Linked DNA regions of Homo sapiens. The protein of the gene in region 6 interacts with the protein of the main gene of each other region in a biochemical or structural test. Each region holds a gene or a part of one and is shown on either strand. Other genes may lie near its edges. The genes, in order: RASSF6, RALBP1, ADGRG1, KHDRBS1, MTMR1, PALS2 and KIT.

Region 1 (4,163 bases), on a different chromosome or scaffold from region 6:
AGGGGCCAAACACAGAATATATTGGATGACTTTTGGCCTCCTATATTTGTGTGACAAAACTAAGCTGTCACGTCTGCGAGGGTCACCGAGAATTTGACTGGCATCCTGGGGATTCTTATCTTTAGCCCTATGACATAGCATCAGGTTACTTTGCATTTTTAGTTTCTGTTTTTCATTGGTATTGACTTTTCCATTCCTAACCCCCCTTCTACGATAATTATGTCTGCCACTTTCTGATTATTAAGCTGCTATAGATTTGGGGAAATGGGTAATTTTATCTGCCATAAGACTAATTAGATTCTGAGTCAGGACCTGGTAGTTTTCCTTTGAGTTAAAGTTATTACCTGTAGTTGGGCTTTATGACATTTGTTTTGATTGGCTGTATTCTGAATAGTACAGCTTGCTGGAAAATTAACAAATATATTAGGATTACCTTCTCTACATCATAAGGCTATTGTGAGACTCAAATGATATAGTAGCCATAAAACACGCTTCAAAAGAATTCAAAAGTAAAGAGGATAAGGGATGACTTTCTTCATATTCACTACCATTAGTATTAATAAATATTTTTTGTTGCCACCAATGAAATTCGGGCAGAGTCAATGCCATAAATTCCCTATAAGTGAATATATTTTAGTCATAAGAAAAACAGACATTACTGAAGAGATTCTTAGATAATAGCAACCATTTGCCTAGAGAGATCCAGGAACACCTTGGGTCCCTAATGGTTCCTGGCCCATCAGGAATGAAATAGATACAGATGCTGGTGATGATGATGATGATGATGATGATGATGATGATGACAATGGAGATGAGGATAATTATAATTATTGTTAATCTATATTGAATGCTTACTATTTTCAGGGCACTGATTCAAGAATTTTATACAAATTAACTCTTTTAATCCTCAAAACAACCCTATCCTACCTCATGCTATTATCATTTTTATTTTACAGATGAGGACACAGGCACAGAGGGGATAAGAAACTTGTTTAAGACCAGATAAATAAAATAAAATTGAGTTTTGACCTGCCGTAAAAATAAACATTTGTCAGGTTTCATGTATTCTGAGCACTAGAATGCACTTAAAATTGCTAGTTTCTTTATGAAATCATAATTTTCTGGCAAAATTCTCATACATTTTCCTCCTTCGTAAACTACATTCTTCATGGTAGTCAAGGGCCTTAAACGATAGGCACTATATTTTATTATTTTAGAGCCACTCTACCTAACAATGTTTTGAATGCAAAAGGTACAATACATATTGACAGAATGTATAAAGAACACTTTTATACCCAAGCTCCCCTAAGAGTATTGTGAAATATCTTTATAACAATTGATCATCTTGGTTTCTACTAATTCAATTTGGACATATGTTTTACAGAATCTATATAACTTGTGTTTCAGTATGTAACTGAATTATTACGTCAAAAAGATATGCTCTATAAAAGTACAGGAAGCATTTAAAACATATATTGACCACTTTGGTATGAATATAATTTTAATAATATCATAAAATTGTTATAACTTTGGACAATATATCCACCTACAGAGGCCCACAGTATTACTATATTAATATTGTAAATCTGGAAACCATCATAGGCTTCAATATAAATGGAACTGATGTACTTACAAGATTTATTACTTCTCAGAATGACACGCTGGGGGGAATTTGACGATCTCTATCGTATTAGTGAGCTGGACAGGACCCAGATTCCTATGTCTGAAAAAAGGAATTCCCAGGAAGGTCAGTATCAAAATCTTATTGATTGGGAGACTTAATTTTTAATTAGTGTAAAGTATGACTCCATATGTTTCTCTGAAATCTAACCTTTTTCATACTACTACACAATAAACTCTTGTTTTATATGTATATATATTTTTAAATATCTTAGGAGCATAGTAACTTAAGTCACTATAGTGCTTGTATGATGTTTAAGAACCTTACTTTGGTATATAAAAATATAATTCTTAAAAAAATTATATTATGTCACTTAGATTTATTAGAATAGGGAGAGCTAATAGTTTTAATAAAGTTTGTATTCATAAAATTGTTAAATATCTTCCCCAAAGATTAGAGTCATTTATTATTCCCAATAGCTTTATATGTTAGGCCAAGCCCATCAGACCTAATTCTGTATCTTTTTAGAAGTTGAACGTTTTAGTTAGTTAATAGATATGTCAATAACATTACTTCTCAGAAAGACACAGATATGCTGGAGTCAATTTTATATTTGATAGAGTTATTTCAGAGATCTTTTTAAAAGAGAAATATACTTAAGGATCAAATGGATCCATACTGAACTTGGCAAACCAATGGGAAATGCCAGCTCCAGGGATGTGTGACATTAGTAGTTATAATCATAATGGTGATGATGTGAGAGTAATAATAGTGATATTGATAGCTGTAATCTGATGAGACTCTGGTAAGTATCAGGCATAATATTTTGTACTTTATATGAATTTTTTCATGTAATTCTCATAAACACATAAGATTCAAAGAGTAGTGGATGCTGATGACTGAAGCTAGAATGAGGGGTGGTGGACAGGGTTCATGTGCCTGAAATGGGGCTGTGATTTACGAAGTCAGTTCAGTGTGAACAAAGGTATCCCACTAGCATTAACTTCATAAGCCTACCAGCAACTTGCAATGTTTGTTCTCTTTTTTTTTTTTTCAAATCATTCTCAATTCTGCCTCGTCTGCTATTCCACAGGAACCCAGATCCTGTGACAAACATGATGTTCCTTCCAGGGTTCCCTTTTCTCTTTATGCCATGGGATCTTTACATCTTGTTAAATATCGGCCCTTCCAATTATCTTTTAGAAATATATATGAAACCCAAGGAAATCCCAGTATCTTGGCATCAAAGACATCATAAAAATATATTTGTATTTAAACAGCAGTGCTAGAGAAGGAAGAAATATCTCATGCCTATTTGATAATGTTCTAATTACAGTAGAAAATTTTTTAAAATCCTAAAGTAAAATAAAACACAAATGCCACCACATGGTCTTATTCTTACATATGAATATGCATAGGAGAGGAAATTGAAAAAGGTACTATCAATTGTATACAAGCAGAAAGGGGGGCAGAAGGCAGGTTTGAATCTTCTGCATCTTAGGCTAGTAACACATTGTAGCTCAATTCAATTCCATTTAAACACCTTCTGCCTACTCAATAGATACTAGAGTTGTTCAACGCTACACTATAATTTTATACTCTAAAATCTGCTATAGAAATTGTAATAATTCAGTAACCAAATTTTGACTAATCAATTATGAATCATTGTTAAATATACATGACTCAATGAGAAGAAATAATAGGATAGTGGACAACTAAGTGAAAAAGTCATTCATATCATACATCTGGAATGTTCTAAAAAGAACATAATGTGATATATTACAAATAGTAGGACTAGTCCAAAGCATACTATTCCTTTTGCTTTTATAAAAGATGGGAACAAAATCTTTCAATGCTCCACATACCATATAAATAGCTTCTCAAAGAGCTTTCTGTAGTTTTATAGGAAAACTAAGGCCCAGTGTTTATTTTTTAGGAAAAGCTCCAAAGAACTTGGGCCAACATATAATGGGGTGGGGGGAGGGGGGAGGGATAGCATTAGGAGATATACCTAATGCTAAATGACGAGTTAATGGGTGCAGCACACCAGCATGGCACATGTATACATATGTAACTAACCTGCACATTGTGCACATTACCCTAAAACTTAAAGTATAATAATAATAAAATAAAAATAAAAATAAAAAAATAAGGATCCAGACCTGATTCTATCATTTATGAGTACTATGTCCATAGGAAAGCCACTTCAACTCACTGTACTTTTTCTTACCTGTAAGAGATCAAACCTGATAAAGTATCAGGTTTATTCCAGCTCTAACACTCTGAAATGCCACAAAATGCACTCCCCAATAAATTAAGATTAAAGGAATGCCCAAACCCCAAACATGATCATTGTGATCATTTCTTATGAAACATAAGAATGAGACATAAGAATTTTATATGAGATACTGGCAGAATTTGCTGAGTCAGTCTCAGGCAACATTTAATAAGTAAATATGCAGCTAAGCAGTGGACTATAATGCTTTTACACAGCCAGAAAATAGCAATATTCCTAAAATTAATGAAAGCATACACAAATCCA
Region 2 (4,163 bases), on a different chromosome or scaffold from region 6:
AATTTTAGAACATTTTCATTACTCCCCCAAAAAAACCTCCCCATTAGCAGTAGTCACTCACTATTTCCCCTGCCCTCATTAATCTACTTCTGTATCTCTTGATATTTCAGATATTCTGGATATTTCATATAAATGAAACCATATATATCATCTTTTGCAACTGCTTTCCCTCACTTAATGTTTTCAGGGTTCATCCATATTGTAGGATATATTAGCACTTCATATTTTTTATTGCAAAACAGTACTCTCTTATCTGGATATACCACATTTCATTTATCCATTTATCAGTTGAACATCTAAGTCGTTTCTCCTTCTTGACTATTCTGAATAATGCTGGTGTGAATATTCATGTACAAGTTTTTGTGCGGGCATACGTTTTCATTTCTTGTGTATATACCTAGGAGTAGAATTGCTGGGTGTGATGTTATACAATAAGAAATATATATTTGGTCTTGGTCTGGTTCCTAGCCTAGAACTTCAAAGATCCTTGGAACTCCCTGAGTAATAGAGGTAATAGAGCATATTTTGGAATTCATAATAAGTCTCTCAGTCACATCTGAATTTATGCTAATAAAGTGATTCTTGGTAGGCCCCTAGACAACTTCAGGATGGAAGCTGGTTGCCAGAAGAACCAACTGTGTTGATTAGAGAGTTGGAACTTGCAGCCCCACCCCTGGATGGGTGAGGGGGTGGTGGTGAGGACTGGGTATTGAGATCAGTTATCAGTGGCCAGTGATGTAATCAATCATGCCTGTGAAATGGGACCTCCATAAAATCTTCTAAACAGTGGTTTTCAGAGAGATTCTGGGTTGGTGAATGCATCCTTATGCTGGGAAGGTGTTGCTTCAACTTCATGGGACAGAAACTCCTATACTTGGAACCCATCTCGGCCTCACCCTTGTGCCTTTTGATTTGGTGGTTTATTTATATCCTTTATAATAAACTGATAGGCATAAGTAAAGTGTTTCCCTGAGTTTCGGTGAGCCATTCTTGCAAATTATTGAACATGAGGAGGGGGTTGTGGGAACCCCTATTTATAGCTATTTGGTCAGAAGTACAGGTGGCAATGTGCAGCTTGTGGCTGGTAACTGAAGTGAGGGTAGTCTTGTGGAACTAAGCCTGTGGAGTCTGACATAAACTCTGGGCAGTTAGTGTCAGAATTGAATTATAGGGCACTCAGTTGGTGTCTGGAAAGTTGGAGAACTGTATTGGTATGGAAAAACACTTCCACATGTGGTGTCAGAAGTGTTGTTAGAAAACAGCTCATGTGGTAACTCTTGTTGAACAGTTTGAGGAACTGCCAAATTGTTTCCCAAAGCGACTGCACCATTTTATAATCCAATTCTCCAATTTCTCTACATCTTTGCCAATACTTGCCATTTGCTTTTTTAAATTTTAGCTATCTTGGGGTGAAGTGGTATCATGTTGAGGGTTAGATTTTCATTTCCCTGGTGGCTAAGATGTTGAACATCTTTTCATGTGCTCATTGGCCATTTGTATATTCTCTTTGTGGAAATATCTACTGAAATCCTTTGTCCATTTTTGAATTGTATTGTTGGTTATTGAAAGAGTTCTTTGTATGTTTGGTTACTAAATGTTTATCAGATATATGATTTACAAATACTTCTGTTTTCTGGGTTGTCTTTTCACTTTCTTGATAATATACTTTTGATGCATTAAAAGTTTAAATTTTACAGTATAATTTATCTGTTTTTTTTTGTTTGTTTGTTACACAGGCTTTTGGTGTCATGTCTACATTGCCAAATCCAAGGAATGAAGATTTATTCCATACTTTCTTCTAAGAGTTCTGTGGTTTTAGTTCTTATATTCAGTTGTTGGTCCACATTTTTATATGGTGTGAGATAGGGGTCCACGTTTTTTTGTTTTGTTTTGTTTTTGAGACAGAGTCTCACTCTGTCGCTCAGGCTGGAATGCAGTGGCACAATCTCAGGTTACTGCAATCTCTGCCTCCCAGGTTCAAGCAATTCTCATGCTTTGGCCTCCCGAGTAGCTGGGATTACAGGCGAGCGCTACCACGCCCGGCCAATTTTTGTATTTTTACTAGAGATGGGGTTTCACCACATTGGCCAGGCTGGCCTCAAACTCCTGGCCTCAAGTGATCCACCCACCTTGGCCTCCCAAAGTGCTGGGATTACAGGCGTGAGCCACTGCGCCCTGCCAGAGGGGGTCCACTTTTTTGCATGTGGTACTCTAGTTGTCCCATCCTCATGTGTTGAAGAGACCATTATTTCCTGATTGAGTGGTCCTGATATCCTTGTTGAAAAATCAGTTGACCACAAATGTCTGGGTTTTTTCCCCTGGACTCTTTGTTTGATTCTCATGGTTGATATAGCTATCCTTATGCCAGGTACCATGTGCTGTTTTGATTACTGTGGCTTTGTAGTACATTTTGAAATTGAGATGTGTGAATTCTTCGACTTTGCTGTTTCCAGTATTTGTTGGCTCTTCAGGGTCCCTTGCAATTCCATATGAAACTGAGGATCCATTTCTGTAAAAAAGGCCATTGGAATTTTAATAGAGATTGCATTGAATTTGTAAAACATTTTGGGTAGTATTTCTGTTTTAAAAATATTAAGTCCTCCAATCCATTAACAATAGGATGTCTTTTCACTTATTTAGTTTGTCTTTAATTTCTTGCACAATATTTGTAGTTATCAGTGTCAAGTCTTTCACTTCCCTGGTTAAATTTATTTCTATTTTTTTTTTAGGTGCTGTTGCAAATGAAATTGTTTTTTAAATTTGTTTTTCAATTTGTTTTTCACAATTGTTTTTCACAATTGCCTAGTGTTTAGATATACAACTTATTTTCTGTCACCTTATATCGTGTGACTTTGCTGAACTCCTTATTAGTTCCCATAGTTTTCTAGTGTATTCTTTTGAGTTTTGTATATAAGATCATGCTGTCTGTAAACAGAGATAGTTTTACCTCTTCTTTTCCTATATGGGTATCTTTTATTTATTTATTTTTCATTCCTAATTGCCCAGGCTAGAACTTCCCATACAATGCTAAATGAAAGTGGCAATAACAGACTTCCCTGTCTTGTTCCTTATCTTAGGAGGAAAGCTTCCAGTCTTTTACCATTTAGTATAATGTTAACTGTGGGTTTTTCTTTCTTTTCTTATTTTTTTTGAGACACGGTCTCATTCTGTCACCCAGGCTGGAGTGCAGTGGTACAATCATGGCTCACTGCAGCCTTGACCTCCCAGGCTCACGTGATACTCCCACTTCAGCCTCCTGAGTAGCTGGGTCTACAGGCATGAGCCACTATGCCTGGCTAATTTTTGTATGCTTTGTAGAGACAGGGTCTCCCTATGTTGCCCAGGCTGGTCTGGAGCTCCTGGGCTCAAGCTTCTGCTTCAGCCTCTCAAAATGCTGGGATTATAGGCATGAGCCACCATGCCTGGCAACTGTGGGTTTTTCATTGATACACTGTATCAGTTTAAGGATGTTCCTTATGTTCCCAGTTTGTTGAGTACTTTGTTGAGTGTTTGTCAAGTGTGTTGCTTAATTATCTACATATTTTTGAAGTTTTCAACATTTTGTCTGTTATCGATTTTCAGTTTCATTTCATTGTGATCAGAGAACATACTTTGTATGATTTTAGTCTTTTAAAGTTTATTGAGGCATCTTTTATTGCCTAACATATGATCTGTCCTGAGACTGTTCCATGTGCACTTGAGATGGATTCGTATTACATTGTCTTTGGGTGGGGTGTTCTATAGATGTCTGATAGATCTAGTTGCTTTATAGTGTTGTTCAAGTCTTCTTTTTCATTGTTGATCTTTTCTCTAGTCTATCCATTATTGAAAGTGAAGTATTGGGAGTCTCCGTTTATCATTGAACTGCCTCTTCGCCTCTCACTTCTGTCAGTTTTTGTTTTGTATCTTTTGGAGGCTCTGTTGTTATGTGCAGTGTATGTTTACAATTGTTGTATCTTGTTGATGGATTTACCCATTTATCATTATATGATATTTAAGAGATAGTCTTCATTGTTTGGTATTAGCATAGACTTTCTTTTATTTTTATTTTTTTTGAGACAGAGTCTTGCTCTGTTGCCCAGGCTGGAGTGCAGTGGCACGATCTCGGCTCACTGCAACCTCTGTCTCCCAGGTTCAAGCGATCCTCCAGCTTCAGCCCCCGT
Region 3 (4,163 bases), on a different chromosome or scaffold from region 6:
ACTGAAGATCAAGAGCCCCAGGAAGAATTCTTCCTCAGCATCAGTGTAGACTGTTTATTTCCTTTCACAGAGGAGGAAACTGGGGCACAGAGAGGATGCCCAAAGCTGCACAGCTAGCCAATGGGAGAGCCAGGATTTGAACCCAGCAGCTGATTGGAGTGGGGTAGGGGTGAGGGGCGGAGTATGAGAGGTCAAAGGTCAGGAAAGCAGTGGGGTTGACTCTGAGGTCCAGAAGCTGCATCTTCCCCCTTGAGTGTGACAGGTACATGTGGCCACTGCCATTCAGCACCATTAAATGCTGAATGGTGGCCAGGAAGGGAGGAGCATCAGAAGGAGCTTGAAGGTTTACTGGGGGGTTTTCATGTCTTTCCAGCACCTCAAGTTTGAGGCAGGGCTTTCAGGGGTGGGGGGCACAGCACTTTGATTGTGTCAGTGTAACAGGCTAATGATTATGTCCAGTGCAACAGGCAGGCCCAGGCCCGTCAGTGGTGGGGGGTTCCCCACACCCCAGGCTGGGATTCTGCCCCGCAACCTGGGAGGATTTAGGGCAAAGTTGATCCTAGTTGCAAATTGGCATTCTGAAGACCAGACTGAACTTGGTCTTGTTTGGCCTGTAGAGGGTTTTTAAAAAACATGGACCAGGGATTTCAAATCACCTAAAACCCAGGCTTTCTCGGTTATGCATTCAAAAGATGGAGCTACCCAGGGCCTGCCTTCCTCAGTGGCACAGAAAGTATACCCTCCAACCCCCACTGTTTGTCTTCCTCATCTGAGTCCCAGCTAATCCCTGGAGACACCTTAGTCGGCCGCCTTAGTAGGCCGCCCACGCTACCTGGGCAGAGGGGCCCGAGCCTGGAGTCAGGGAGGCTGGTGGGTGTGGAGTCCCAGGAACCACCACCAAGCCCCGCACATCCCTCCTAAGGAGGCCTGGCTGGGCCCTCTCTGCTCCGTGTGTGTAGCCGAAGGTGTCTGCGGAGGGTGCTGAGCAAGGCACATCCCACCCCATCCCGCTGGGGCTGGCATTGCTGGCGGGTTCTGTAAGACACAACCCCCACGGGTTGGCCTCATCTGAGTGGCCTTGGCAGAGTCCACTCTGCTTCTTGAAGCCTCAGTTTCCCCTTTGTAAAGTAAAGATCGAGGCATTCAGAGTCATGTCAGGGTGGTAGGGGGCAGAATGGGAGGGTCCTGGGACCTGAATCGGCAGCCTCGGCGGGGGCCTGTCCACCCCTCCCCCAGGTCCTCCCCACACGGCCGCTCACAATGCCTCGGTGGACATGTGCGAGCTCAAAAGGGACCTCCAGCTGCTCAGCCAGTTCCTGAAGCATCCCCAGAAGGCCTCAAGGAGGCCCTCGGCTGCCCCCGCCAGCCAGTAAGTTTGGCACCTGGGGCTGTGAGGGGAGGCAGGAAGGCATCAGAGATCTGGACCTGGGCAGGGTGGGACCTGGAGTAGGGGCTACTGCGAGGCCTTCCCTGGGACTGGAATGCTTCTTTGATTTCTCTTTCTGCCTTCTGGGAGTCAACACATGCCCCCCAGGCTGAGCCCTCTCCTGTCTGAGTCAGTAACCAACATCACATCCACCATCCCAAGCCCTCCTCCCCCTCATAAAGAAAGGATGGGTGGTCCACAGTACAGCCCAGCAGACCAAGGCTCAGAGACGGCAGAGCCGCTCCAAGGCCACAGAGTAGGTTGGCACAGGCGGAGCTGGGCCCAAACCCATGGTGCTGAGTCCCAGGACAGCCCCCACCACACCATTGCTCTCCTTTCCCTTGGCTCCCAGGTCCTGGCCTCCTCTGTCTGACCCTACCCCAGCTCATTCTTTCTCTCCCACACGCAGATGCCTGCTTTTCTCTTTTGTCTGCTCTCCACTCTCTCTTGCCCACCCCACCCCTCTCTCTGCCTCTGCCTCTGCCTCTGCCTCTTCCCTGTGTCTCTGTCTGAGTCTCTCGTCCTCCTGCCTCAGTCTCCCTGGTGGCCCGGCCCCCTCCCCACCATCACCACCGCTTTCTCCTCCCTGCCAGGCAGTTGCAGAGCCTGGAGTCGAAACTGACCTCTGTGAGATTCATGGGGGACATGGTGTCCTTCGAGGAGGACCGGATCAACGCCACGGTGTGGAAGCTCCAGCCCACAGCCGGCCTCCAGGACCTGCACATCCACTCCCGGCAGGAGGTCAGGGGCAGGCCTGGGCAGGAAGCAGATGCGGGTTGGGCCGGGGCCAGATGGAGGTGGGGGCTGTGAGCACTCCCTGAAGCTCAGTGCCGTCGCAGCCTCTCCCTGGGGCCTCCCGAGAAGGTTCCAGGCCCGAGGATAGCCATCCTAAGTCAGTAGTTCAACCGTGGGATTGAGGACCCTGTGTGGGCACAGTGGCAGGGTCTGCTTCCTATACCAGTCTCCTGGGGCCACCCGTGTGAACAGAAGACCAGCCCCTAAACGCCTGTCCACGCACCCCCCCCCCCCGTTTTTTTTTTTTCGAGACAGGGTCTTGCTTTGTCACCCAGACTGGAGTACAGTGGGGTAATCATGTCTCACTGCAGCCTCAAACTCCTGGTCTCAAGCGATTCTCCCACTTCAGCCTGTGAGCAGCTGGGACTGCAGGCTTGCTACCACACCTGGCTTTAAAAAATTCTTTGCAAGGCTAGGTGCAGTGGCTCACATCTGTAATCCCAGCATTTTGGGAGGCCGAGGCAGGCAGATCACTTGAGGTCAGGAGTTCGAGACCAGCCTGGCCAACATGGTGAAACCCTGTCTCTACTAAAAATATAAAAATTAGCCGGGCATGGTAGTACATGCCTGTAATTCCAGCTACTCGGGAGGTTGAGGCAGGAGAATCGCTTGAACCCGGGAGGCGGAGGTTGCAGTGAGCTGAGATTGTGCCACTACACTCCAGCCTGGGCAACAGAGCGAGACTCTGTCTCAAAAAACATTTTTTTATTTTTGTAAAGACAAGGTCTTGCTACGTTGTCCAGGTTGGTCTTGACCTCCGGGGTTCAAGCAGTCCTCTCGCCCTGGCCTCTCAAAGTGCTGGGATTACAGGCGTGAGCCACTGCACCCAGCCACACACCCCATCTTGAGACTGCCCCCTGAGTGGCTCTGGTTAGCTGGGAACCACCCACACTGCCCACATGGCCACCCCCAAGTTGGCTGCTGTAGGCAGAGCTGGCATCTGAAGCCCCAGACAACAGAACATCATGTGGTTCTCCCAGGGCTATTTGCCCTGGAGTCCTGGATTCTAACCACAAGACTCCCCAGCCAGAGCTGGTAGCAGGGAAGGGAGGGATGAGGAGGGCTGTCATGAGTCAGGCTTGACTTCCTGAAGAAATGGGCTTAGAAGTGGCAGCGTCCAGGAACGGATGGGTGTGTGTGTGTGTGTGCTAGGGTGGGGGGCACGGATCTAGGGGTCCGCATTTGGCTGAGCCCTAAAGGGACCTCTGCAGGAGGAGCAGAGCGAGATCATGGAGTACTCGGTGCTGCTGCCTCGAACACTCTTCCAGAGGACGAAAGGCCGGAGCGGGGAGGCTGAGAAGAGACTCCTCCTGGTGGACTTCAGCAGCCAAGCCCTGTTCCAGGTATGGGGTCCTCACCCTCATGCCTCCCAGGAGAAAGCAGTTTTTTTCTGACAGAGGTGGAAAGAAGGCACGCAGATGAGCTCCTTCCTCTGGGAGTCAAAGCCTTTCCTTGTAAAGTTACAAATTGCACTGCAATGTGCAAATCTCCCTGTGAGAGGGCTAAGCAATGTTCTTCTTACTATAGTGTAAATGACTACATGGGCAAAAGTGGTTCCAGAGGGAGACGCAGCATCTCAAGGCAATGTGCTGGGAGAGGGTTATCTAGAGAGGGTAAGGGGCTTCTGGGCCCTTCTTCTCAGTCCTGAACTCCCTCCCTACTCTCTTCCTCCAACCCCATGTATCTAGGACAAGAATTCCAGCCAAGTCCTGGGTGAGAAGGTCTTGGGGATTGTGGTACAGAACACCAAAGTAGCCAACCTCACGGAGCCCGTGGTGCTCACTTTCCAGCACCAGCTACAGCCGGTGAGTGGGGGCCAGCCATCAAGAGAACAAGCGCCCCTCGGCCATGTCACCCTTTCCTCTCCCTCCCTCCAGACTCATTTGTCTTTATAATGAAACGATTGCCTGATCGAGCAGTCAGGTCCAAATGGGGCGGGTGG
Region 4 (4,163 bases), on a different chromosome or scaffold from region 6:
CATCTTTTTATTATCAAAAAGTTTCTTTCTCAAATGATTGCTCAGGCTACAAGTTCAAAGAAAAAAAAATTAAAACCTGAAGAGTTGCTCTTTGTCAAAAGACTAACCTGAAATCTAAATAAAAGGAAATATAATATGAATCCTCAATTGGTTGAAGTTAATTTTATTTTCTTACTAAAAGTTTACTTTTAAGTAAATGCTTTTTTTCTTCCTTTTTTTTTTTTTAGGAAAGCATTTAGTTACATTTAGTTTATCCAGCGTGTTATCAAAGGGTGCTATATAGTCTCTTCTGTTCTGAGGTCACTGCCTTAAAAATGTTGATGTATGTTAAGTGCTGGGCCAGGCACAGTGGCTCATGCCTGTAATGCCAGCACTTTGGGAGGCCGATGCAGGCAGATTGCTTGAGCCCAGGAGTTCAAGACCAGCCTGAGCAACATAGCGAAACCCCATCTCTACAAAAAATACAAAAATTAGCCTGGTGTTGTGGTGTGCACCTGTACCCAGCTACTCTGGAGGCTGGGGCAGGAGGATCACTTGAGTCCAGAAAGTTGAGGCTGTGATGAGCCATGATTGTGTCACTACACTTTGGCCTGGGCAACAGAGTGAGAGCCTGTCTCAAAATAAAGTAAAAAATAAAATAGTAAAGGTCTTAATGTATTATGGAAGAGCACCAGAATACATCAGAAAAGCCAAATTCAGGTCTAGGAACTGCCACTTTCTAGTTTCATAACCTTAAGCTAATCACTTTATTAATATGGCTTCAGTGTCCTTCAGTAAAATGGGAATGGTAATACTCTACCTTTGCAGGGTTGTTTAAAATCAAGTGAGGTAATTTATGTGGAAATGTTTTTATATAGTAGCATGTATATTTAGAAATCCTCTATTTTCTGTCAGTTCAATTTTGTGGGGAAGATTCTTGGACCACAAGGGAATACAATCAAAAGACTGCAGGAAGAGACTGGTGCAAAGATCTCTGTATTGGGAAAGGGCTCAATGAGAGACAAAGCCAAGGTAAGCTCACATTAGTGAGGCAAGAGGACATCCTAATGCCTTCTACTTGCCCAGAATGCAGTATGGATGTCTTATAGAGGCGGCAAGAATTTTGTATGTGTACAGAATGTGGCTCCTTTAAGTTTGCACTGGATGCAAGAGATTATACACCAAGTTAATTTACTTGGCTTGGCAACCCTGGAAGAGCCTAGGTGTGCCCTGGTGATAGTTTTCTTTTGGACTTTTTGACTGTGTAGTAATGGAAACAGCAGTAGCATGTTGCGCATTGGTAGGATTGTCTGTGAAAACTTGAAAGGGGAACTGAATATACTAAAATTTAGTCTAAAGCAGACAAAAGACGCTAAAATGCAAATAGCACACCCCCTTTTTTGTAACCTGGAAAAGTGAGAACAATAATGTGAGAGCAGATGAGTTTGAGGATTAGTTGGTTTGTTTTATAGCCGGTTTGGAATGTGAGGCTCACTAAAAGAATGTATTCCAAAAGGAACCATGAGTAATCCTGACTACAGAATCTAATGCGTCTTTTTTTTCCCCATGCCATAGCCGCGTACGCTGTGTACTCTGTGACAAGAAACTTCTCACCAAAACAGAATAGTCTTAGCCTTCTGGGGTCACCTTATTTGATGAGATATTCCTGCTACAGTCCAAAAACCAATTCTTTCAACCCTCCTTTTATGTAGTCTAATGGACACATGTTTGTTTTCTCAGGTCATTTCTTGCTAGATGCATATAGTTACGGCTGAAGTGTGTTCTAACTAATGAGATTTACATGAGCTTTTCTTCCCTCTGTCCTGACTTCTTTCTTCCCCTACCACTCCCTAGACCATATAAGCAGATAAGCAGAGCTCGTGGTGATTAACAGCTCTACCTGTGATTTAAAAACAAATGCTTGGCAAACAGCTATTATCTGAATAGACTAGAATTAAGTTTTTCTTCTTTATGCTTTTAGTAGGAGCTCCAATGGATATCTCAGGGATTTAAGACAACAATTAACTGTAAGCAGCAGACCATGTGCAAGTTTAGCAGGCTGTGCAAATTACTGTTCTTGAGAGTTTGTTTTACTTTTTTTTTTTTTCTTGAGAGGGAGCCTTGCTCTATTGCCCAGGCTGGAGTGCAGTGGCTCACTGCAACCTCCACCTCACGGGTTCAAGCAATTCTCCTGCCTCAGCCTCCTGAGTAGCTGGGATTACAGGCGTGCGCCACCATGCCCGGCTAATTTTTGTATTTTTAGTAGAGACGGGGCTTCATCACATTGGTCAGACTGGTCTCGAACTCCTGACCTTGTGATCCTCCCGCGTCAGTCTCCCAAAGTCCTGGGATTATAGGCGTGAGCCACCGCGCCTGGCTGCTTGTTTTACTTTCTTAAACTTTACTGTTTTTCTTTTTTCTTTTTTCTTTTTTTGTTTAATTCTTCTCAGCTCATACCAATTAACTTTACTGTTTTTCATGGACATTAGGGGTATTTCTTGCTGTTCCTTTGGCTTAGAGGTAAAGGTGGTGTTTTCTCCCTAGTCCATGGTGTGACATTTCTCTGCATTTTTCCATAGGAGGAAGAGCTGCGCAAAGGTGGAGACCCCAAATATGCCCACTTGAATATGGATCTGCATGTCTTCATTGAAGTCTTTGGACCCCCATGTGAGGCTTATGCTCTTATGGCCCATGCCATGGAGGAAGTCAAGAAATTTCTAGTACCGGTAAGGAAATCCATATCCTGTGTCTTCTGAGCAAAAGAGAACTGGGATCTTATACTGTTGTGAAGGTAGGGGTTCTTAACTAAGGTCTCTGCATAACCTGTATGTATACCAAATTCTGCACTTATGTTCATTTTCCTTAGGTAGTTCGTTACTTGCACCTAGTTCTCAAAGCATTATGCTCCAAGGCCACTCTATCCCTCCTTGTCTAATGTGGTTTTCATTGTGTACCGGTATCTTGTCAGTATCTCGGGTCCACAGTGTGCCTGCATTCTGATATTTGGTTAACTAAGGTTTAACAGGGTCTTCACCTAGCTGAGTATTTTGGTAGTAGTGTGGAACAAGGAGATTGTGTTAGGAAAGTGACTAAGGTGGGTCTCTGCACTCAAGAAGTTCATGCTGTAGAGAGTAGAGACTAGCAGCAAGAAGCTTATAGCATCTAGTGTTATTGGGTTAAATTCTGACCTGAGCACACTCAGGGATTTCTTTCCTGGAGGAGTTTGCTGAGGACGAGTTTAGTTTGGAAGAGGTTGACTATTGATGTTTAACAGATAGGTGAGCAGCTTTTTTCAGACTATTACTGAGGACTAGATAGAGATGGGACAGGCCAGTTTATCTATCTTGCTTGTTACCACCTTTGAATACTTGGTTGGAATATTACTTTGAATAAATAGGAAATGGTACTATTTTTGCCTTTTAGCAAGGCCTGGTGGTTGTCAGAGTTAACATACTACTGTTGAATATTTAATAACAAGGATGAATCTGGAGACTTATGAAGGATTTGGAATATTATTAAGTAGAATTGAGTAAGCGTCATGTGTTCATCAGAAAACTAGGAGGAGGTAAGATACAGTCCTTGGTTTTCTTGAATGTTAAATGAGGGAATTAGAACTAAATGTGGTGTCAGATGATGTGAAAATTGATAGGGCAAAAATTTATAGGCAGTGTGGGCCAGGCACGGTGGCTCACGCCTGTAATCCCAGCAATTTGGGAGGCCGAGGAGGGCAGATCACCTGAGGTCGGGAGTTCGAGACCAGCCTGACCAACATGGAGAAACCCTGTCTATTAAAAATACAAAATTAGCCGGGCGTGGTGGCACATGCCTGTAATCCCAGCTACTAGGGAGGCTGAGGCGGGAGAATCACTTGAACCCAGGAGGCAGAGGTTGCGGTAAGCTGAGATTGCACCATTGGACTCCAGCCTGGGCAACAAGAGTGAAACTCCATCTCCAAAAAAAATAAATAAATAAGTTTTTAGGCATTGTGTACCCATAATGCTGAACTCCAAGGATTCCAACAGTCTCAAATGTCTTAGCAGCTGCTTTGCTTTCAAGTACCTCATCTTCATTAGAATGTTCAACATGAGGCAGGGCGCGGTGGCTCACACCTGTAATCCCAGCATTTTGGAAGGCCGAGGCGGGTGGATCACGAGGTCAGGAGATCAAGGCCATCCTGGCTAACA
Region 5 (4,163 bases), on a different chromosome or scaffold from region 6:
AAGAGAAAACCACAGATTAACATCCCTTATGAAAATACATGCAAATATCCTCAACAAAATACTAGCAAACCCAATCCAAGAGTATATGAAGGGGACTGATCACATACCATGAACGGGTGGGATTTATCCCAGGAATGTAAGGAGGTTTTATTAGCTTCCTAAGGGTGCTATCACAAACTGGGGGACTTAAAACAACATAAAATTTATTCTCTCACAGTTCTGGAGGCTGAAAGTCCGAGATCAGGGTGCTGGCAGAGTTGGTTCCTTTAGGAGGGTATAGGGAAGAATCTGTTCCATGTCTCTCTCTTAGCTTCTGGTGGTTGCTGGAAGTCCTTGGCACTCCTCAGCTTCTAGCTGCATCATTTAAATCTCTGCCTCTATTGCCACATCGCCATCTTCCTTCTGTGTGTGCCTGTGTCTCTACATGGCTTTCTTATACGGACACTAGGCACTGGATTTAGGGCCAACCCTACTCCAAGATGGCTTCATCATAATTAATACATCTGCAAAGATCCTATTTCTAAATAAGGTCACATTCTGAGGTTCCAGTTGGACAAACTTTTGGGAGACATTTTTCAATCCACGACAGTGGTTCAACATATAAAAATCAACCAATGCAATACCAATGCAAGAAGAAGATATGAAAGGCAGCCAGATTGTAAAGGAAGAAGTCACATTATCTCGACTTGCATATGACATAATCTTATATATAAAGAACCAGTGGAGACCTAGAAAATACTGTTTCCTAGACACATATACTGCCATAGTTAAAATTATTCTAGATATACAATTTAGTGTCCTGTCTCTATCTCTCCTGCATGGGATAAAACACAATGAACTGCCCTCACCCTGTTGGCTAGTCTGAAGATGGCCTCCACCAATATGGCTTTTCTCACATTTTGTAATTCCTTGGGATATGGTGGTGACAGGTGGGAGGCAGAGATGTAGAAAGACTGACACAGCTAATGATCCAGATGTGGGGAGCAAGGGGGCCTCACTGAGGGATGCCTCCCTATGGTAGGCTGAAAAGTGGCCCCGCCAAAGACATCCACATCGAATCCCTGGCAATGGTGAATGTGACCTTATTTGAAGAGAAGGTCTTTGCAGATGTTTAAGGATCCTGAGATTTGCAGATGTGTTTAAGGATTCCAAGATTAATTGAAAAGAGGGTCTTTGCAGATGTGTTTAAGGATCCAGGATTATTTCAGGTGGAACCTAAATGTCATCACAAGTGTCATTAGAAGAGAAAGGAGGAGACGCAGAAACCCAGAGCAAGAGAGGGTCATGTGATGACGGAAGAAGAGATTGGAGTGATGTGGCTGCAAGCCCAGGAAGGCTGGGGCAGCCACCCCATGCTGGAAGAGGCAAGGAACAGATTCTCCCCTTGAACCTTTAGAGGGAGCAGAATTGGCCTCCAGAATTGTGATCAATACATTTCTGGTGCTGTAAGCCAACAAATTGGTAGTAATTTGTATGACAGCCTCAGAAAACTAATACTTCCCCATCTTCCTCCCTGCCCTGTTCCTCTCCCAGTCTTCCCCATCTCAGTAACAGACACCACTATTCACCCTCAAGTCAGACACCTGGGCAACACCCTTGACCACAGGGGTGGCGAGCTTATCAGCATCATGTACTGTGCCCTGAGGATGCACTCACCACTGTGCTAAGTCATTTACATGCATTCTTCTCACTGAATTTTAATCCTCACACAACCCATGACATGAGACACTGATATTATCTCCTGTTTTACAGAAGAGGAACCTGAGGCACAGAGAGAGGTTAAGTAACCGGCTCAGGATTCTAGAGCACCAAGTGGCAGAACCTGGAGGAAAACCCAGGTGTAACTGATTCCAAAGCCAAGGGGTCTCACCAACTTGCCATCGTGCCTCTCAGGCCAGTTGGAATATACGGAGGGTTTGTGGTCTGGGAAACAGCCAAGCAGAGATGTCAACCATACAATGGGATAGAAATCCAGTCTCAACCTTAGGAGGGATCAGGACAGGAGAGAAACTGCAGTGTCAAGCTCAAGTTGAACTCAGCATACAGACAGTGTTTAAAGCCGTGTCATCAGAGATGGCCCCAGGAGTCTGTGTAGAGCAAAGAGGACCCCAGACCAAGTTCGAGGAGCAATGCCATTTGAAGACTGGGAAGAGAAATCAGTGAAGGAGATGGAGAAGGCCAGGCTGAAGAGCGAGAGAAACTCAGGGTGTGATATCATGAAAGTCATGGGAACGGAGGTGTTTTTAACCATGTCTCACTGCCACCCGAGGTACACTACACAGGTGCTCCATGAGATTTATGGAAACTTTGTACATTTACACATTTCACATGGCTGATTCCATTCTAAAAGAAATTCAGACCAGACATGAATTAATCAACTAACCACTATATTCCTTAAACGGACTTCCAAGGACCTCACGATCATTTCATTAAAATGCTAAATCCTTTAGATGATAATTGTCTTTCTAGGTCTTTACTTAATTGATTTAGCAGACAGGATATTGTAGAGAAGCAATGAAACAGACAAGATCCCAACCCATGTGAGACACCAAACACAGCCCAAGGAGCATACACCAGGGAGGAATAGCTATGGGACTCCAAATGATTCTAACTTCAGGTGGTGAGGAAATCAATGAGTTATTCCAACTGCATAATGATTTACAGACAGGACATGAAAATATCCAGTGTTTCTGCAGTGCTATTAAGAATATACCTTGTTGGTATCAGCGACACTGTTTTGTCGAGCATCAAAGATGATAAGCTTGTGTGACTGTGCGTTAGCATCCATTATTGTTTGCAAGTATTTTTCATCCTCTTTGCAGCGCTTATCATTGGGACCCACAAGTGGCTGGCTGCAACGGGTAATCGTTGCTTGACTTTCCGGATGAATCCATGACAACACCTAGTGTTTTTAAGCAATAAATATTAGTACAGTTCCTAAAGAATGTATGCTCTAATTACCTGGTAGGAAAAACAAGTTCCCTTCTCAAGCACGGTCTCTTATACATATTTTCTTCAAAAGTGAGAGTGGGCAGGCCAATCACAGCATTGTAGTGGCCATCAGACTCAATGTTTTGGTCAGGATGAAACAATTCTGACTACATGAGCTCTAAAAATCCCCTTCCATCCCCAATATTCTATGATTCTAAGAAAAACAAATCCTAAATCAAACTATTACTAAAATCTAGCCCCATTCCAATTTGATTGACTAATTTTACCTTGTCTCCTAATTTTAAAAACATCTTTGTATCTCAACAATAATATACGTGGCAGGGTAAGGACAAAGTGAATATACAGTCTCTTATAAAATCTGACACTCTGCCACCCCACCTCTCATTTTCCTCCAGTGGCCAAGTGACTCAGGATTACAACAGATGCAAACTCTGGGCTCAAACCATTACTCCCAGCTGTCTGCTACTACTTCTGTAATGATGTCCCTCCCACGCAGCTATGGCATCATGCTCAGTATCTAAGAAAGAAGCATTTTCTCTAGGATGATTCAGTGAAACCAGCAATGCCAACTGGTAATACAATAGCATGATAACTTGTTGTTGCTACTCCTTTGTCATTCTCTACTACTTTTTGAGGGTATGACTGAAGTTCCCCTTATACTTAGTTATAGGAAATCGTAAAAGAGGGAGTCATAGCAAACAGATTGTTTATATAATTAGGTATTTGTTGAGAATCAAAGGTATGTTCAGGTTTATAAGCTTATTTTTCTGCTTTCCATTTTTGTTCACTAGTTTCTTTTTTGTCTTAAATCTCTCCATATTAGATCTAACGCAATATATATTCCTATATAAATGACAATGTTTATTACTTACAGGGACTCTGCCTTTTGCTCGAAAAGCTGCCACTTTTGAAAGGTCATCATCTTTTACACTAGTTGGCACAACAATGATGGCAGGGTAGGTGTCACAGAACTCATAATTACTGTTTATTTTGGATATTTTCCAACTCTCATTTGGCAAGCCCTGTAAGGTGTTGGAGAAAGAAGAAGAGGGTGAAATGCATGACTTTACACTTTGAAAAAGTACTAAGCATGAAGTACATCCATTTCTTATTTGCAACTAAAATCCGTTTATAATTTATTGTTTATTGTAACTTAAAAGTCAATATATATATTTATTCGGTAAAACCCATTTCCTAGACATTTCTAAAAA
Region 6 (3,784 bases):
GATCATTAGAGGAATACAAATCAAAACCACAATGAGATACCATCTCACACCAGTCAGAATGGCTATTATTAAAAAGTCAAAAACTATCAGATGCTGGCATGGTTGTAGAGAAATGGGAACACTCATACCTTGTTGGTGGGAGTGTATATTAGTTCAACTATTGTGGAAAGCAGTACGGAGATTCCTCAAAGAGCTAAAAGCAGAACGACCATTTGACCCAGCAATCCCATTACTGGTTATATACCCAGAGGAATATAAATCTTCCTACCATAAAGACATGCATGCAAATGTTCACTGCAGCACTATTCACAATAGCAGACACAAATCAACCTAAATGCCCATCAATGACAGATTGGATAAAGAAAATATGAGATATATACATACACCATGGAATACCATGCAGCCATAAAAAAGAATGAGATCATGTCTTTTGCAGGAATATGGATGGAGATGGAGGCCATTATCCTTAACAAATTAACACAGGAACAGAAAACCAAATACTGCATGTTCTCACTTCTAAGTGGGAGCTAAATGATAGTATCTTATAAACACAAAGAAGGAAACAACAGACACTGGGGTCTACTGGAGTGGGGGGTGGGAGGAGGGGGAGGAGCAGAAGAGATAACTATTGGGTACCAGGTTCAGTATCTGGATGATGAAATAATATGTACAATAAACCCCTGTGACACGTGTTTACCTATGTAACAAAACCTTCACATGTGCCCCCAAACCTAAAAGTTAAAAAATGCAAACAGTTAAAAAAAATTATCAACGCTAATCAGATATCCTCCATTATTATCTCTAAACCTTAGTTCTACCTATAAATGAAACACTTTTTTCCAATAGTAAATATTTCTTTATATATACAAAAATATTTTACCAGGAGTATATAATCTCACAGATTAGACATTTCAATAATTTTTGTTTTGGACAGCACATGGAAATATGTGAAAAGATTTATAGGGACAGTTTCTGAAAAATCAATACTTAATTGTACCACAGGAAAATTTTATTTATACAACAGCAATAATGTTTCTTTTATACAGAAACTAATAATACAATTACCTGGAAAGCAGTAGCAATTAATTTTTCTTTTTAAACTTCTTAATCAGAAACTTTAAGCAGCTTGTTCAGCTTTGATTTTCAGATTGCTAACAAGCATTCTGCCCTCCATTTTTTTTTTTAAAGATTCTCTTCTACAGTTACTTCAAAAACTAGAGGTTTAAAAAAGCATGCGTCTTGTGTTCAAATAAAAGACTTACCAAAACGAACTGGCGTGGGGGGAAAAGGAAGAATAAAAAATTCCCACAGCAAGGTTTTCACATCAAATACTCACCATAGGCTCCAACAGAGCTCAACATAACATGGAGAAATTGCACTTGTTGCTGAATACTAGTGCTCATTCTTCTACAACAGAGTCCAACATATCACTTCTTTAAAAAAAAATCAGTGTTACTGAAGAGACAGGAGCCAGTCAGCAGTTCTTTTTAAAAGAGAATACAGAGACATAAGAAATATTTTTATTGTATTTCAAATACAGATGTAGCTGAGCTATGCCTGAAATCTGGTTCTACCTGAAAAGATGGAGGCATTTCTCATTTAGACCATGTTTACCAGGACAAGCTTTATGTCTTTAAAGCAATGTTACTTACACTACTGTCCACCTCTCCTATTTAAGAATAAGATGAAAACCACACATTTTAACTGGTAATGACTTCTGGTTTAATGTTGGTAATTTACAGCTGATGAGTTTTTACATCAGATGAGTATGCTTTTTTCCTGTTTTAGTTAATTAGGCTTCCTCCAAGCTCCTAGGCTACTTTGATAGGAGGAGAGCCAAATTTCATATATGACCTGTCATATTTATGTATGTTCCTTCCCCTGGCTTGCTGTTGGCTGAAGTACAATAAAGACATCTATTTCCAATTTTAAGACCTTTTTGGCTTCTGTGGTAGCAACACCACCTATTTCATAAGATTCAAAGACAGTTGCTTTACAAGCAGTAAATCACTCAATCTTCTGATTGGTGGCATTTACCTTAACTATAGATGTGTTCATTCCATTTACACTGGAGATTAGAAAACAGTAAGAGCCAGTAGGAGGGGAAAAAAAGGAAGAGAACTATCCCTTCTGATCGACTTTTGTATGTGGAGATAAGTCAAATTTATCACACCATTGCATTATCAGCCAATGACTGAGAAGCAATTACAAAGTAATAACTAAAGTGGATTAATATCTGGATTTTGAGGTTCACAAACTAAGACCTCACTGTGAATGTTTCTTTCTATAAAGAAATAGATGCCTTTTTAAATTAATGGTATGGGTAAAACAGTAGGGCTGCAGTGATTTCAGGTATGCAGTGATTTCAGGTATAAGGATAAAGTAGGACAGTTTTCGGGGGCAAAGATCAGAGTCTTCTGGTGTAACCGAGTACTGGATTGCTTGCTTACATTTTGTTTGATTTGTGAGTGGTCTGGTTGGCAGCAAGGATTTGCTAAGGGTTTGGATTTAGTATGGGATTATAAGATAAAAGGGACTTTCTGATTAGGACTAAGAGAGCAGAACAGACCTTCCACCAGCTGAAACTGTATCTTTGGGGCTATTTTAAAACTGGAAGAATTCCTGAAAAGTATTCACCATTCACTACATTACTTCAGAAACAGGTACACTTTAAAATAACTAAAAGAGAACAGATAAAGTAGCCTAATAAGGATTTTTCAGTTCACCATATCACAGCTACCACATCAGAGTTACAAATTACAAATCAGAATTTAAGGCGAAGACAAATATTAACTTAGCCTTACTTAACAAGTAGAATAGTAATGATAAAGGGAAATATAAATTTCATCGAAGATCACACAGTCAGAAGTCAGAATTAGGATCTTGGCCAGTACCCTGTCTTTACTTTTATCACTAGAGAATATTTTTTAAAAAGTACTGCAGTGTATTGCCAAAGTGGTGTGAACCATGCTTACTTTAGAAATGAGATATCATCATTCTTTCACTGTTTAGTATATTAAGGACTCATGTTCGAATCTCTGCATTTTTCAAAAACTATTCCAAGAACACAGAAGCTAGCATGATGAATTATGGGAAATATTTTAAAAAGAATATAAATTGCAAAACGTTAGAACAAAAATGCAATTTAAAAATAACCTTACCTTAAAAAAATTATAGAACTGTCATCTTCCTCAGGTATACAATATATGCTTGCATAAAAACTGACAAGATGCTCAATTATTAGTCAAATGTATTCTTAAATTTTGTGAGTATTCATTTGTACTATATACAATAATCCCATTATTTAAAAGAATGAATTTCTCCCAAAAATTCCAAATACATTACAGATGTTATTACATGAATTCTCACAGCAAACCTCTTGAAATAAGACAAGGGCAGGTATCATAATCTCAGCCTGAATCATATTAAAGATTCATTCAAAAGTTTAAATAAGAATTTCCAAAGGGGTTTCCATCCAGAACCCTGCCCTTTTTCCCTAAGAAAATTAAATTTATTATAATAATGACTACTTTCTGAGTTTCTCATATATTTTTCAGAAAGATTATCAGCTTCAAGGTGGAACCAGAGCGTTTTAAAACAATCTAAAAAAAGTTTCAGAATGTCAAAGAAATGGGAGTAATTAAAAATTTTAGAATGCTAGTTATAATTACATGAATGAATACATTCAGTTTTATATTCATACATTTTGGGAGAATTTTACATATTATACACATAGCTGTATATATATATATATATATATATATATATATATATATATACACAC
Region 7 (4,163 bases), on a different chromosome or scaffold from region 6:
CAATCCTGTGTGATGTTCTTTGTGCTTTGGGATCCCATATGGGATTGGAACCACCAGCACACTCTGAAGGAGATTGTTGTCATGGTGTTTCTATGCTAATCAGAAGCAGGAAGTACTAGAAATCTTGAAGAGTCTCCAGCCAAATGTTGCAGATTGAAGAGGTCCAGATGGTTCAGAAAATCATCCAAATTATTGGTGTTTATCTGAACCAACTTGATTTTTTTTTAAACCTTCCTCCATCAGTCACTATATGTTAACGATCTCTGCCTCCTGCATAACACGTCTTGGAAGCTCTTCTTTGTCTTTCTTTCATCTTGTCTCCTGGGGCTCATTTAGAGAGTTTGAGGTAATACGGGATACCATATTTGGCTCTCTGTCTCCCATTAAATTCATTGTGTCAAGAGACGGGAAATTTCTAACCTGAGTCCTCTATATGATTATACACAAAAAGGACACCTAGTTTCTGGGCATGGACCCCAATATCGATTATTAAAAACTCATTTCTTACAGAACAGGATTTTCAAACTCTTTATTCAAACTTTACATGACTTTCCTCAAATTGGTCCAGTCTATTATGTAGCAAAGGGGATGAGGAGGTAGAGCATGACCCATGAGTGCCCTTCTACATGTCCCACTTGATTCAGTCATGACTTGTTTCATCTCTCCCAGCAGCGATAGTACTAATGAGTACATGGACATGAAACCTGGAGTTTCTTATGTTGTCCCAACCAAGGCCGACAAAAGGAGATCTGTGAGAATAGGTGAGTACCTACCTATCAAGCAACCAAGAGTAACTTTACAGAGAGTATGTATATCATGCTAATGTGGAATATAACATCATTCCCAGTAGCAATGATGCAGACCAGTTCTGCTTTATGGTAGCAGTGCCAATGGTCAATGGCAGTTAGGGTTGCAAGTGGGTGTTTGGGGTCAGAGCATATGTTTTTGTGCCTGAGTATCTTTCTATAGATATGGGATCTTTGCTTTAATTCGCCATCCCTCTCCTCTATGGATTTTGTAACCCAGCCTAGGATTGTTAAATATTAACTTTGTGATTCAGCATCTACCTTTCCTGGACACCAGGGAAGTGATCTGCCTGCAAGTTCACATTAGTTCATTCATTACCAGCCTTTGGTATGTCATTGCCACTGTCTTTTCCTTTCCTGACCTTTATGGTTGTAATTGCTAAGAAAAATCCTCTCTTCCTCACAGGCTCATACATAGAAAGAGATGTGACTCCCGCCATCATGGAGGATGACGAGTTGGCCCTAGACTTAGAAGACTTGCTGAGCTTTTCTTACCAGGTGGCAAAGGGCATGGCTTTCCTCGCCTCCAAGAATGTAAGTGGGAGTGATTCTCTAAAGAGTTTTGTGTTTTGTTTTTTTGATTTTTTTTTTTTTTTTTTTTTTTTTGAGAACAGAGCATTTTAGAGCCATAGTTAAAATGCAGAATGTCATTTTGAAGTGTGGTAACCAAAAGCAGAGGAAATTTAGTTTCTTCATGTTCCAACTGCTGTCTCTTTGGAATTCCTGTTCTAATTTATAAGCTGTAAAGTACAAGCCTGTCTAAATGAGTTTTTCTATGAATATTCTTTTATATGCAGTGAAATTCTTTTAAAACTTTTGGCTTTTAGGATATAGGATATGTTCCTAGAGAACAGAATCATTTTATCAGTAAAAGCAGAGGGCACCTCATAGTTACAAGGCTTGGGGTGAAGCATAGACTTGAGTTTTATTGAAGTTAGATCCAAATATTATATGTGTGGCTTATGAAGTGTCAGGAAATAAGGGGTCAGAGGGAGTAATAAACACTTGGGAGAAGGTTAGGAATGGAAAGAATGATGGAACCAAAACAAGGAGCATGGTCTGTGGAAGGGTGAAAGGAGTTCCTTAGGAAGTAAGATTAACCGAACAGAATGAGTTACCAGTCCTACCCTTAAATGTCATGGGTGACATTTCCCAACAATTACCAAACTAAGAAAGGATATAAGATGGCTGAAATAAAGACCTTCTTCCGTGTGTCCTTGGGAGATGTCAGATTGAATTTGCAAAGGCATATTAGGAACTCTGTGAAAGGACATTCAAAGAGATGCATGCAAAATGAATTTTCAGTTTAAACAATATGATATGACTATTTCTTATGTATTTCCCTATGAATGAAAGCAGTCCTGAGAAGAAAACAGCATTTATTAGAATTGCTTTTAAAAGAGATTATAATAATTAGACTCTTGATTATGTGAACATCATTCAAGGCGTACTTTTGATTTTTATTTTTGGTGTACTGAATACTTTAAAACAAAAGTATTGGATTTTTTATAATATAAGCAACACTATAGTATTAAAAAGTTAGTTTTCACTCTTTACAAGTTAAAATGAATTTAAATGGTTTTCTTTTCTCCTCCAACCTAATAGTGTATTCACAGAGACTTGGCAGCCAGAAATATCCTCCTTACTCATGGTCGGATCACAAAGATTTGTGATTTTGGTCTAGCCAGAGACATCAAGAATGATTCTAATTATGTGGTTAAAGGAAACGTGAGTACCCATTCTCTGCTTGACAGTCCTGCAAAGGATTTTTAGTTTCAACTTTCGATAAAAATTGTTTCCTGTGATTTTCATAATGTAAATCCTGTCTAGGGATATCACACATTTTAGCAGTCAAATTAAGTATACTTCAGCAAAATTTGCATGGTATGCTGAACATTACTACAACTAACATTCAATAATAGAAGTCCTAATTCTAATTGTGTAATTTTGGGGCATGTGAAGGAAACAGAAATAGCCTTAATTTTCATTATAGCCTGAGAATAGCAATGAACTTGATTTTGCTCAAGTGTAACAAATGTAGGTCATTGAAGGTCACAGCAGGAGAAATTTTGGGGGGATTGGCATGCCGTGTGAAAAATATTAAAATCTAAGATCATATTCAGAGTTAGCCATATAGAATGTTGGATCCTAGAATACACGGAGAGCTATTAAATAGGTTCATAAGTAATAATGGGTTTGTAGAACATAGCAAATGTTTTTCAAAGTGCTGTATTTCCTTGCCAATTTTTATTGAATCCTCAGAACAAACCCTTGTCCTATAATTGCAGCACCTTCCTATTTTAAAAGTTGGAGAAACTAAGGCATGGCATATTTTAGTGCTTTTTATCTGAGGTGACACAGGACAATAGAGGCTGAAACTAGAGCCTGTGATTTCCAGAGTGGCATCCCATCGCCATGGAAAACCATATTGCCCTTTATAATATTCTCTGCCTGTCTTCCTGGGCCCATTTCTGCAGTCCAGATTTATTCCTGGAGGTGGATTTTTGTGCCCCTTATGATAATGTAATGTTTTCCCCCCATCACTGTGGCGTCTCTATTGGTAGCCTGTACTCGATTTGGTTTTGTAAGAGTGTTTCTGTGTTTATCTCCTGGCCAAAGCATGAATTTCTGAAAAGGCTGCCCTGAAGCTAGATATTATCATCAGGAGTGATAATAAAAACAACTTCTCTTCATCCTGGTGCAATTTTGGAAGGAAGAATGATAAGTCGTTAATTATCCAGTCCTCTGAATATTGACCAAAGGGAGGAGGAAGAAGGTGGCCGCCTCCAGGCCCAGTCTTGATGAATTCTGCAATCTGTCTCCATTATTTCATGCCTGTGTAATTTTGTCAAGAGTTGTCCAATACCTCTGAATCTTTGTTTTTCTCCCCTTGGGAATAATAGTGATTCCTGACTCAGAAAGTTATGAGTTAATATATGTAAAGTGCTTATGACAGTGCCAGACATATTGTTACTATTCTTTATAGATGTCTTATTTACGATCTAAATAATCGTGACGGTGGTTACATACTGTCTTGTTATTGGTTAGTGACCTTAGTTTGAAATGACAAAGAGGGGTTGGCTCTATCAGGCTTCCAGATTGTAGACTCCAGTTCAAGTCAGTTGAACTAACCAATCACAGATCTCGCTTTCACCAGGCTAGTGGGTAAGGAGAATTTCTGGAACAAGATAAGAAGAAGGAAACTCATATATGTTACCGCCCCACATTTTTGTCATCATCATTTGAGATCTCCTTGTTGTGTCAGGTTCTCTGAAGTTCTTTCCTTTCACATGAGTTCTTCATTGTTTTTCATGTCATGGCCCCTTTTAGAGCCTGGTAAAGCCTATGGGACCCTTA

The links.
Region 1: the proteins of PALS2 (region 6) and RASSF6 interact in a test that uses a peptide from one of them, tested with the Homo sapiens proteins (one large-scale study listed by IntAct).
Region 2: the proteins of PALS2 (region 6) and RALBP1 interact in a test that uses a peptide from one of them, tested with the Homo sapiens proteins (one large-scale study listed by IntAct).
Region 3: the proteins of PALS2 (region 6) and ADGRG1 interact in a test that uses a peptide from one of them, tested with the Homo sapiens proteins (one large-scale study listed by IntAct).
Region 4: the proteins of PALS2 (region 6) and KHDRBS1 interact in a test that uses a peptide from one of them, tested with the Homo sapiens proteins (one study listed by BioGRID).
Region 5: the proteins of PALS2 (region 6) and MTMR1 interact in a test that uses a peptide from one of them, tested with the Homo sapiens proteins (one large-scale study listed by IntAct).
Region 7: the proteins of PALS2 (region 6) and KIT interact in a test that uses a peptide from one of them, tested with the Homo sapiens proteins (one large-scale study listed by IntAct).

What each region holds. Positions count from the first base shown.
Region 1 is NC_000004.12:73,585,424-73,589,586, reverse strand, and holds part of RASSF6 (ras association domain-containing protein 6), read left to right. Parts: intron 1-1,652; coding exon 1,653-1,747; intron 1,748-4,163.
Region 2 is NC_000018.10:9,481,809-9,485,971, forward strand, and holds part of RALBP1 (ralA-binding protein 1), read left to right. Parts: intron 1-4,163. UniProt on the Homo sapiens protein: Multifunctional protein that functions as a downstream effector of RALA and RALB. As a GTPase-activating protein/GAP can inactivate CDC42 and RAC1 by stimulating their GTPase activity.
Region 3 is NC_000016.10:57,651,967-57,656,129, forward strand, and holds part of ADGRG1 (adhesion G-protein coupled receptor G1 isoform b precursor), read left to right. Parts: intron 1-1,236; coding exon 1,237-1,369; intron 1,370-2,019; coding exon 2,020-2,167; intron 2,168-3,432; coding exon 3,433-3,564; intron 3,565-3,909; coding exon 3,910-4,026; intron 4,027-4,163. UniProt on the Homo sapiens protein: Adhesion G-protein coupled receptor (aGPCR) for steroid hormone 17alpha-hydroxypregnenolone (17-OH), which is involved in cell adhesion and cell-cell interactions.
Region 4 is NC_000001.11:32,030,630-32,034,792, forward strand, and holds part of KHDRBS1 (KH domain-containing, RNA-binding, signal transduction-associated protein 1), read left to right. Parts: intron 1-894; coding exon 895-1,011; intron 1,012-2,558; coding exon 2,559-2,705; intron 2,706-4,163. UniProt on the Homo sapiens protein: Recruited and tyrosine phosphorylated by several receptor systems, for example the T-cell, leptin and insulin receptors. Once phosphorylated, functions as an adapter protein in signal transduction cascades by binding to SH2 and SH3 domain-containing proteins.
Region 5 is NC_000023.11:150,731,281-150,735,443, reverse strand, and holds part of MTMR1 (phosphatidylinositol-3-phosphate phosphatase MTMR1), read right to left. Parts: intron 3,975-4,163; coding exon 3,825-3,974; intron 2,903-3,824; coding exon 2,714-2,902; intron 1-2,713. UniProt on the Homo sapiens protein: Lipid phosphatase that specifically dephosphorylates the D-3 position of phosphatidylinositol 3-phosphate, generating phosphatidylinositol. Could also dephosphorylate phosphatidylinositol 3,5-bisphosphate to produce phosphatidylinositol 5-phosphate.
Region 6 is NC_000007.14:24,691,401-24,695,184, reverse strand, and holds the end of PALS2 (protein PALS2), read right to left. Parts: 3' UTR 992-3,784; downstream 1-991.
Region 7 is NC_000004.12:54,730,659-54,734,821, forward strand, and holds part of KIT (mast/stem cell growth factor receptor Kit isoform 1 precursor), read left to right. Parts: intron 1-669; coding exon 670-761; intron 762-1,212; coding exon 1,213-1,340; intron 1,341-2,411; coding exon 2,412-2,534; intron 2,535-4,163. UniProt on the Homo sapiens protein: Tyrosine-protein kinase that acts as a cell-surface receptor for the cytokine KITLG/SCF and plays an essential role in the regulation of cell survival and proliferation, hematopoiesis, stem cell maintenance, gametogenesis, mast cell development, migration and function, and in melanogenesis.